2 separate regions of the Homo sapiens genome follow, and region 2 is linked to region 1. A link means that fine-mapping ties the variant in region 1 to the expression of a gene that starts in the linked region. Tissue or cell type: testis. Region 1 holds a variant in brackets; the other region holds the start of a gene. All regions are shown on one strand. Distances are between the middles of the regions.

Region 1 (5,000 bases):
GTCAGGACGGAAGACAGCTGTGAGGAGGATGCCTGGAGGATACAACCCTTCCCAGAATAGCCAGGAGGCAAAACTGGGCCAGGGAAGAACGGGTCATGTTGGGCTTGATTCTGGCTGGTAGCTGCTGTTCTAGGAACTGAGAACTTTGCCCCAGGCCTCACTATGGCCATCTGTCCAGATCACTGAATCCAGACTCTCAAAACCAAACCGTAAGCTCACAGTCAAATCAAACAAGTACCTACTTATATTTAACTGACAATTTTGAAACCATATTTTGCCAACAATTTAAAAACTAGTTTTATTTACCAAATTTTATCACATACACTTAACATATATAGTACACATATGAACACAGAAGCAGATCTTCTAGTTTTCATAAAGCTAGCTTATAAATAATTTTTCCTTTCTCTCTTTAGACTATCCCTCTTTCAATCACATGCTTCATTGCCCTAAGCAACTGCCAGCCAGGCAATTCCAAATCTGTACTTCTAAAGGGCCAACTCCCAGGCCAAACAAGAAAATCTGTATTTCAACAGCACAGAGCTAAGACTTTAGACCTAAATATTGTATCATCAGCTCAAACCAAAAAAAAAGTAGTGGAAGTAAAAGTTCAGTTAAGACAAGATAGTCTGAAAAGCACTTTAAAAAAGGTTTGACTTGTTATGTAAATTGAAAACAATGGCAAGAGTTTCTAATGTACATAGGCAGATATCCTTAAAAATGGAGATTTCCTTTATAAATGTAGGTTTTTTTACAAAAAGGTTTAAAGATAGCCAGTTAGATTCCAGAAAGGCATATTTTAGTTCCATGGGTGTTCTTTTTAACTTAGCTACTATTTCTTAGCTAAAATTACTGAGTTCAGCATGGAGCCCATTAAGGAATAGAGCAAAGAAAGCATTTTCCATGACTGGATTCAGCATGGATTGCTGTGAGAAAGAAGCAAGCCTACTTTACCGGAGGTCTTATCTTTTGTAAACACTTTAGGATAGCTTTCTTTTTGCCTTTGGGGCAGAATAATAACTAAACCAAAATGTTAACAGATATTTTCTTATCAATTAGTCACTTAAACTTTTTATTTGCCATTTGTAAAAAGTCTCTTTTAAAAAACAGTAAAGATATTAAAATCTTTTTAGAAGCTTTTGCCTATCAATAGGCATCCCTAGTTAAGACTAATTTAAGAATTCTCATTTTCTTTTTCTTTTCTTTTCTTTTTTTTTTTTTTTTTTTTTTTTTTTTGAGATGGAATCTCACTCTGTTGCCCAGGCTGGTGTGCAGTGGCAAGACCTGCGGTTCAAGTAATTCTCCTGCCTCAGCCTCCCAAGTAGCTGGGACTACAGGTGTCCACTATCACTCCTGCCTAATTTTTGTATTTTTAGTAGAGATGGGGTTTCACCATGTTAGCCAGGCTGGTCTCAAACTCCTGACCTTAAGTAATCCACCTGCCTTGGCCTCTCAAAGTGCTGAGATTACAGGCGTGAGCCACTGCACCTAGCCAGGAATTCTCATTTTCAGATGCACTGCTTAAAGTGTGGTATTATTCATTTGGAACATTGCATTCTAATTTTAAATTACCTTTAGTAAGATTTTACCACTTCTATAAGTGTTTGCTGCTTCCAGAGTCTGATATTTATACATGCAAATGTAGGCATAGCTGGAAGGTGGATTATTCAGTTCTTTAGAAACTAAGGATCTCCTTTTTACCTTACATCTTGGCTTTGGCTATCAGATCTCCTTGATCAACTTAGTCAATGATTTTTTTTCTACCTGAGCAACCAAAAAGAGAAAAGTGCAAGGAAGGGGTAGAACACAAAAATCCCTGTGAATTTGCAAAAGCTGAAATTTATACCTTCTGCAATATTTCCATTTATTATCAGTTTCTGTCTGACTGGGTCAGACATAAGAGGCCTCTAACTGGATCCAAGCCAGTTAATATCAGATCCAACGTGATTCTGCATCCAGTCCAGTTTCTGTTGTGTTTTCTGAACCCAGTTCAGATAAAAAAATTTGCTCAAACTCAGAGAGCTAAAAACAAATCCGTGGAGCTTTGGAATCTGAGAGAGAATACCATGATCCCCAGTTGCTGTGAGAAAGCAGTGGCCACAGTGGGCCTGGCAGGGATCTCACTTGGTCACATGTTGCTTCTGGGCATCGGAGGAAGTTCTACTTCAGGTCCCACTTCTGACACCATCTGTTAAAAGAAAAACCTTATGCAAATTTAACTGAGTAAAGAATGATTTGTGAATTAAGAAGACTCCTGAGCCAGAGTAGGCTCAGAGACTCCAGCACAGCCATGTGGTGGAAGAAGATTTACGGACAGAAAAAGAGAACTGATGTACAGAAAACAGAAGTGAGGTACAGAAACAGCCAGATTGGTTCCAGACCAGCATTTGCATTATTGAACACAGTTTGAAAGAGTTGGCTGCCTTTGATTGGCCAAAACTTAGCGATTGACACAAGAGTAGACTACAGTCTGTTTACACATCCAGTTAGGTTACAGTTCACTATGTCTGGAAAAACATTTAGGCTGAACTTAAAATATGTAAGGAAGTAGCTTTGG[TC/C]TAAACCTAATTTAACAACATGCGTATGTATGTGTGTATATAACTGTGTACGTGGATAGGTATGTGTATGCATGAGTGTGTACACATATGGGTGTGTGCATGTGTAGTTGTGTACATATATACATGTGTATGCATAAACATGTACATGTAGATGTATGTATTGTATAGGCATGTATAGCTATGTGCACGTATGATACATGCATGTTTAAGTTATGCATATGTACATGTATAGTCATATGCATGAATAGGTATTGTATGTATAGGCATGTACAGGTGTGTATATGCAGATGTGTGTACATGTGTAAGCATGCACATGTATGGGTGTATGCATGTTTGAGTGTATGCATGCATAGATGTGTACACATATGGGTATGTACATGCATATTTGTATACATGTATGGGTATGTTTATATGTGTACACAAAAGTGTATACGTGAATGGTTGTATACATGCATGTATAGGTATATACGTGTCTGGGATACACATGAGTAAGTGTACACATGTATAGGTGTGTGCATATATATAGGTGGAAAATGCTTGCCTTTACTACTCATTGCTTTTTTTTTTTTTTTTGCTTTTCTCTTTTCCTAAAGTGGCCTATCAAGTAATGCTTTCAAATTGAGTACTTGTGTAAAGTATTCTACAAATGGCATTTTGTACTCAAGTATCTTTTTCCCGCTGAACAGTGAAGAGCATCTTACTTGCATAGGATTCCTGGACTGTGGTCTTTCCCATTCTTTGCCAGTGTTCCTTTCCTGATTTCTAGTTTCTTATATTGCAATTGGATGGATAGGTGCGATAGGTGCCAGTCTGGATTTTTTTTCCCCTGCTTAAATAGGGTTCTCTAATGCTTTTTTAATGGGATTCCGTAAGATCTTTTGTTCAGAATTAGAGCAGAATATGCTTAGATGTAACTTTCCTTATCAATCCAGTGTCAAACTTAGGGAACAATTTCAATTCATAGATTTGCATATTTCTTCAACAAGGGGAAATTTATACATATATTTCCTTATTTACTGTATATATCTGTACGTGTCCTCCAAATATTTTTTTTTCCTTCTGAAACGTTCTTTATTTGAGCATTAGGTCTACCCTCCAAATCTCTTTTCTTTTCCTTCATATTACTCTCTTTTATATTTTTGCTAAATGCTCTGATATATTTTTTGCCCATGACCACTTATATCAAATTCACTAATCAGTCTCAACAGAGATCAACCTCCTTTTAAATTTATCTATTTAACTTCTTAGTTCCAACATCATCTGATCATCTGTTTAAGTTTTATGACATCATTTTCTGCAGCATTGGAAATGCCCTGTTTGTATTATTATTATTTATTATTGTTACTATTTTAAACAGATGTTCTTTTGTCATCTCTGTCTCTTGGGTCATGTTTTCACTGAGAAAGTGGCTCCTCTCTCTGATAACTATTCGGGACCCTTTCATGGACAGTGACTTTTTTTATCTTGGCTCAAGTTGTCAAGTTTATCTCCATGGCAGAAACCTAGCAGAAGGAGACAGGTTCACTGGGCTGGGCTATGACATCAGCCTCCCGTAGGCTAAAGCAGGAAGACAACCCACTTATTCAGTTCATTCTTGGCTTTCTGAGAAGTGGAGACACACTGCACACTCTGAGGGCAGAAGCTCTCGGCCAGAAATCTGAACATGAAGCCCTTTCAGAGGTAAGCTGCTCTGAGTCCTCAGTTGAGCAGGGCTGGGCGTGGTTCCCCCAGGCCTGCAGCCTTTAGGAGGATTGTGTGCTGCATTTTTCCCCAGGGTTCCCCTGTCCTCTCAAGCACACTGTGGCCTCTATATTCCTATGCCACTTGCCCAGGGGAGGCCTGTCCCCTGGGGTTGTGGGGGAGGGGAAGAAGGCCCATCTTTGGGGTGCTCATCTTCAGGGCACCGTGCTCCCAAATCCCTGTGAGCTCATTGTCCGCGTGCTGCAATGAGCGTCCTGTGATGAGGACCTCATGCTGGGGCCAGGCGAGACCATTCCTCTTGTCTTTGGTTGAGGTACATGCTGATCAAGGCCTGAGCTCTTCAGGGAGAGCACAGGCATGTGAGCTTTCCTGTCTGACAGCATTAATCAGCATATTTGGTTTTTCAAGGTCACAGAAGACCCTGTTTAATCATTTTTTTACACACTATTATGGGGGCCAGGAATGTACCGACACAAGGTCTGAGAAAACCAGTTTTGATCTGAAACCAAGGGGTGACCTGGAATTCAGTTCTAAAACACTGATTTCTTTGAAGACGAAAAAGCTCTTAGAAGGATCCTCAGGATTATCGTAAGTAAAAAGCAAAACTGGTACTACCTGTTTACTGTTTCAGCTAGCCCCCTCCTGTCTTTTAGCCTGGGAAGAGAGAAGATGAAATCCCATGGGCTCTGAGCCCACATCATCTGAGAATCTATTTCATTTAAAGATAATTCATTAGGTTTC
Region 2 (5,443 bases), 450 kb before region 1:
GTTTTACTCCCACTTACACTTGTTTTTTGCTCATTATTTCTTCTTCATTTTGGACCATCTCAATTTCCTTTTGCCTAAAGTACATCTTTTCAAATTATTTTAATGAAAGACTGTAGCTAACTCTTATTTTTTTCTGTCTGAAAATGTTTTATTTTGACTTTGTTCTTGAAAAAAAATGTCCATTTGTTATAGAATTTTAAATCAACACTTTAAAACACAAGAATTATGATTTCTTTGCATTCTGGCTTTCATTGTAGCTATTATGTCAACTGACAGCCATTCCTTTGAAGGTCATCTGTCTTTTACTTCTGTGTGCTTTAAAGATTTCATCTTGACATTGTTGATATTCTTGTCTTGGCACTGTTAATTTTCTGTAGTTTGATATAATGTGCCTGGGTATGAATTTCTTTTCATTTATTCTGCCTATTCTTGTAGCTGTGCGGGTTCATCTCTTTCATCAGTTCTAGAAATTCTTGGCTGTGTTTTTTCTTACAAATGTTGTCTCAACTTTATGTTTCTCAGCATTGAAATCTAGATTTCCTTAGATAATATCTTCTTATCACGAATCTTCTCTTTAGTTGCTTTAAATCTGCTGTTAAACCTTTACATTGAGTTTTAATGCTTGTTGTATTTTAGTTTATAGTTCTGTGTTTTCAAGTCTGCCTGTTTGTTTTTATGGTCTTCTACTCTTTATTAATATGTTCAACTCTGTAAACATACTGCCTAATTCTATTCTATGTTGGATTCCAGTATGTGAACGCTCAAAGTGGGCTCATGTTCATAAGGTTTGATTGCTAGCTTTCATAACACTGTTTCTGTTTCTTTTGTATTTTGTGGGTTTTGACTGAGCTTGTATTGTAAACTGTGGGAATTATTAGAGGCCCCAGGTTGTTTTTGCCAAGGAGCACTGCCAACTTATGACCTTTTTAAATGCTCCACCTAAAAGTTTTTTGTGCCATCCAAGTAGAGTGGCCCAAAAATCCATGTGAAGGCTACTTTGGAGATAGCACGCCTCCAGGAAGATTTGTTTGCTGCCTCCCCGTAGCAAGCTTTGAAATAGGTCATTTTACTTGTGTCTTCTGGGTTGTATAGGTAGGTGGGTGGGTGGAAGTGGAGGCAGGGGGCAGAATTATTTCTAGTTCATCCTTAAGATATGGCTGTGGCTTTATACAGGAGATTTTTGAAATAAGACTCTCTCATAAGAAAGGACTTTTCTTTTTCCTGTATCCCTGCTACTCCAATTCCTGCAGTTCTTTTCACAGGTTGAACAGTCTCAAGCTGCATCGGCCTTCATTGTTTACCCACCTTGCTGGCTTCTTATGTTCACTTCATTTTTTGGACTCTTGTATATGTCTTACTGATTTCCTCATTAATAGCACATTGATGCATTTATGCAATTTTAAAGGTATTTTAATAAATTAGCGCATTTAGTCGTTTTCAGCTGGAAAGTTGTCCTAAGTCACTATCCAAAAGGACTTCCTGAGCAGGGCCATGCCTTGCAGTTCTTAGTCCTGTACTGACAGTTGGTAATCAGTAGATTTTTTTTTCATTCAACATAAGTTTAGGTTTCTAAAGTGGAAAGTTTTTTGTATTTTTTTTTCTGTAAAAAAAATGCTTTATGGGCTGCGTGCGGTGGCTCACCCCTGTAATCCCAGCACTTTGGGAGGCCAGAGCGGGTAGATCACAAGGTCAGGAGATCGAGACCATCCTGGTCAACATGGTGAAACCCTGTCTCTACTAAAATACAAAAAATTAACCAGGTGTGGTGACAGGCACCTGTAATCCCAGCTACTCAGGAGGCTGAGGCAGGAGAATCGCTTGAACCTGGAAGGCAGAGGTTGCAGTGAGCCAAGATTGCGCCATTGCACTCTAGCCTGGCAACAGAGTGAGACTCCATCTCAAAAAAAAAAAAAAAAAAAGCTTTATGAATGCTAGATTTTTTTTTATAATTCGAACTGAAAACAAGGCACAAAAACTTGCAGAATTTTTTTCCTTCGACCTAATTATTATACACCCTTAGCTCAATGACTTTTAGAACCGCATGTCTTGCCTTTTTCTCCCTCCTGAACTTACATATTTCTGAGTCCCTACCCTTTTTAAGTCTACTTTATGAATGCAAGATATTTTTATATTTTTGTATTTTATATATTTTATATTATTTATATTTTTTGTATTTTATATTTTGAACTGCAAACAAGGCACAAACCTGCAGGTCTTGTCTATGTCCTCCAAATCACAGGCACTGCCAAGAGCATAGTGATTGTTGGGATTTAAAGGAATAAATTTCGTTTTTTGGCTTTATTGGTATACTTGGACAATAAAAGTCATGTGAACAATGTCAAATGTAAAGTTTAAAATAAATCATTCTTGTTCATGGAGATTAGTTTTGTTTTTTAGATCTTTTTACATTTTAATCTCCCCAAAATCACATATTTAGATATGAACATTTTGCCAAAAGAGGGCAGTATTCGCCTACAGTAGAATGTAAAGGGACTGAAACATTTCTGCAGAGACAAGGATGAACTTATTTTCCTCTTAAGATTGGTCTACTAGTCTGATCATCTGGGATTGACCATGCAAGTTTTAATTTGTTTTCTATTACTTTTATGGATTTAAAACATTTTTGTTTGAAAATGTTAGTCTTTAAAGATAAAGCCAAAAATCTGTTTAAAAATACCTGCTTACAGAATGACCAAAAAGTAGATGTTTTCATATTTATTAAGTTTTCAGACACGTCCTCAACGAGGTGCTGCTCACTTCAGGGAAAGATGGCCAGTTCAAACTGCTGATGAAAAGTCTGCAACCAGCAAGACCACTGCTGCCAGTGTGTCCTGAGGGAGCTTGCATCTGTTTGACTTTACATATACATACTTAGGTTTGTCCATCAGTTGTATCCTCTTGAAGGAGGTATGTGAGTTCATGGTTTTAAGCATATAAATTTAAACGTTAAAAGAAGAAATCAGAAGTAGCCCGTTTGAGTCTTACATGAGTGAAATGTGTTGGGTTTCAGCAGCAGAATATATAGAAGGAAATGAAACAATTTTTATTAAAGAGCATAGTTTGGAATAAAGAAAGAATATGTGCACCTAGATGAACGAATTAGAACTCTGCCTGCCCTTTAGGGTTTGGTAATGTTACCAGATAAAAAAGAAGAAAAGCTGTTCTGCATTGTTTCAATACATTCTTAATCAACTTGGGCTTCAAGAGGACAGCTGGAGGCTAAGAGGTCGGGTTTTTCATCAAATGCGCAGTGGAAGTAATTTTGGAAAAGTTTGTTTGCATTATGCTGCCTAAAACACGGTGTTTTAGAAAGAGGCTTTTGCATTGAAAAGCTTCTCGTCCTCGCCTCTGGGAGTCTAGTGCTTCCTAGAGCTGCTTGTGCCCTCAGCCCTGTAATGTGATATCCCTCCTCCTGGATTGGTCAGAGGGGTGTCCTTTCCCTGGGAGCTGCTTTCCACCACGGCTCCCAAACTTGGCTCAGTCCAGCAGCCACCATCACCACCACTGCGGTTGCTGCTGCAGCTGCAGCTGCTGCTCTCCCTCCGGCTGCTTCTTCGCGTGGCCAGCAGCGAATGGAGCGATGGAGCCCAGACTGTTCTGCTGGACCACTCTCTTTCTCCTGGCCGGGTGGTGCCTGCCAGGGTTGCCCTGCCCCAGCCGGTGCCTTTGCTTTAAGAGCACCGTCCGCTGCATGCACTTGATGCTGGACCACATTCCTCAGGTACCACAGCAGACCACAGTTCTGTAAGTTCACATAAATTCCCCAGAAACCCTCTTCCCCAATGCTTCATTGCTTCTCTGCTAGGACCTGTGTCCTTTTAATTTACGATTCCTAATGCTCTCCCTGCTTGTATACTTAGAAGAGGCTTTTCACTTTTCAAACAATTTCATGGTTCTGCTCTGTTAGACTAGAAAATGTAAGCAATGATGAGTTGACATAAATATATTTGTTTTGGATTCAGTTCTCTTCCAGCATCTTCCAGAACTTAGCATTGAGAATTCTCGTCTTCATTCTTCCTTCAATAATTTTCCTGCATACTTTCTCAATTTATTCCTATTCATCCTCTACTCCCAAGTCTTTGGGCCTCTTAATTGGTCAGCACGTGTCTGCCCCATTTGGAAGGAACTAATTTAACTTTAGAGTGTGGTTTCAATTGATTATGTGCTGACAAATTGTTAGGCTTTGTACTGTGTGTACCTCCTGGGAGGGTGAAGTCCTGAGCCCTCAGCACTTGAAGCACTGTCTGTCTCCAGAACAGACCCTCAAATGGTCCAGTAGAGTTCTTGAATGCTTAAAAGCCTTGTGGAGCAGCCGCTTAGACTAATCGGCATCTAGGAGGCATTACGGGATAGTAGGGCAAACCAGAATTTGGAAGTCAAACAGGTCTGAGTTCAAATCCTATCTTCTCATCTTTAATATTCAGATAATAAACCCAAACATTTAGATTTATTTAGATTAAATTAAGTCATAATTAGATAATTAGAAGGGCAAATCACCACAAAAGAAGAAAAGGATCTGTTTCTAGGGTCTATTTTTAAAGAAAGAAAAAGACGACAAATTCAAAAATTTAAGAAAAAATAAAAGAAGAAAAGGAAAAATGCTGAAAGATGCAGACTAAAGAGGTTTCCTGCTCTATAATAAATATTTTGTGGGTTGTGTCATGTTCATGGAAGACAAAACTGCTTGCAGTGTTTCAAGTCCATTCTTGGGCAGAGGGAAATAGCTTAAAATTCCTGGAATTTTGAGATATAAATGTTTAAGAGGATCATTGCCACACATTTGTCAGTCATAATCGTGAAATGAGGACTTGGTAATAAAAAGTCCAATTTGATGGTATTTACATAGAAAATGACATATTATCCATAGATTTTCATTTCTATAAAGCATTTCATTAATTTTATATGCATGCAGATATCAAAATACGTCTTACTGTAATAACTGAAAGGATTCTTGAACTTGGGAGCACTGCTTATTGCTATGTGGACAGCACAGTTCTGCAAGTGCCTTCAGACTCAGAACCAGCCATTTGTCCTTTTGTAATGACAGTTTTTTGGTAGATAGCAGCAAAGCCTTGGAGAAGGGGCTGCTTGTCTAATGAAGTATCTTGGAGCTACATGAGGTACAACTCGACCTAAATTTTGTTTCCTAGGTGTTTCAAAGAAGAGATTAGCTTGCATTAGACACACACCTCTAAATGTAATGAGCAGAACTGAAGTGATGTTGTCAGTGTTGTCATGCAGAGCCTTCCACTATGTTTAAAAATAAAGCTTAATGGTGGATTCTCAGGCCCTTGGCTAGATTCCTGTCTGGGAGTCTGGTGCCACCACTTACAAAATGTGTTGCCTTGGACAAATTCTTAACTTCTTGGTGTCACAGTTTCCTAATCTGTAAAAATGGAGATGCTAACAGTGTTTGATATGGTTTGGATCTGTGTCCCCACCC

Direction of the effects. Alleles are on the strand shown, and positions count from the first base shown. SD is a standard deviation of normalised expression in the study named.
For the expression in testis of the gene that starts at base 3,480 in region 2, TC is the high allele of the variant in region 1 and C is the other (moderate effect, 0.70 SD a copy in GTEx).

Evidence for each region.
Region 2: it holds the start of PXDNL, and the variant in region 1 is fine-mapped to the expression of PXDNL in testis (GTEx, PIP above 0.99).

What each region holds. Positions count from the first base shown.
Region 1 is chr8:51,358,174-51,363,173 of GRCh38, reverse strand. All of the region lies in intron 19 of PXDNL (peroxidasin like), which reads left to right. Among named protein-coding and RNA genes, the nearest start is that of PXDNL, 450 kb to the left of the region's middle. The variant TC/C (reference allele first, on the strand shown) is at 2,558.
Region 2 is chr8:51,807,482-51,812,924 of GRCh38, reverse strand. PXDNL (peroxidasin like) reads left to right here and starts at 3,480. Exons shown (of 23, transcript NM_144651.5): 1 at 3,480-3,744. The coding sequence starts at 3,581. RefSeq lists enhancers at 3,063-3,584, 3,585-4,107.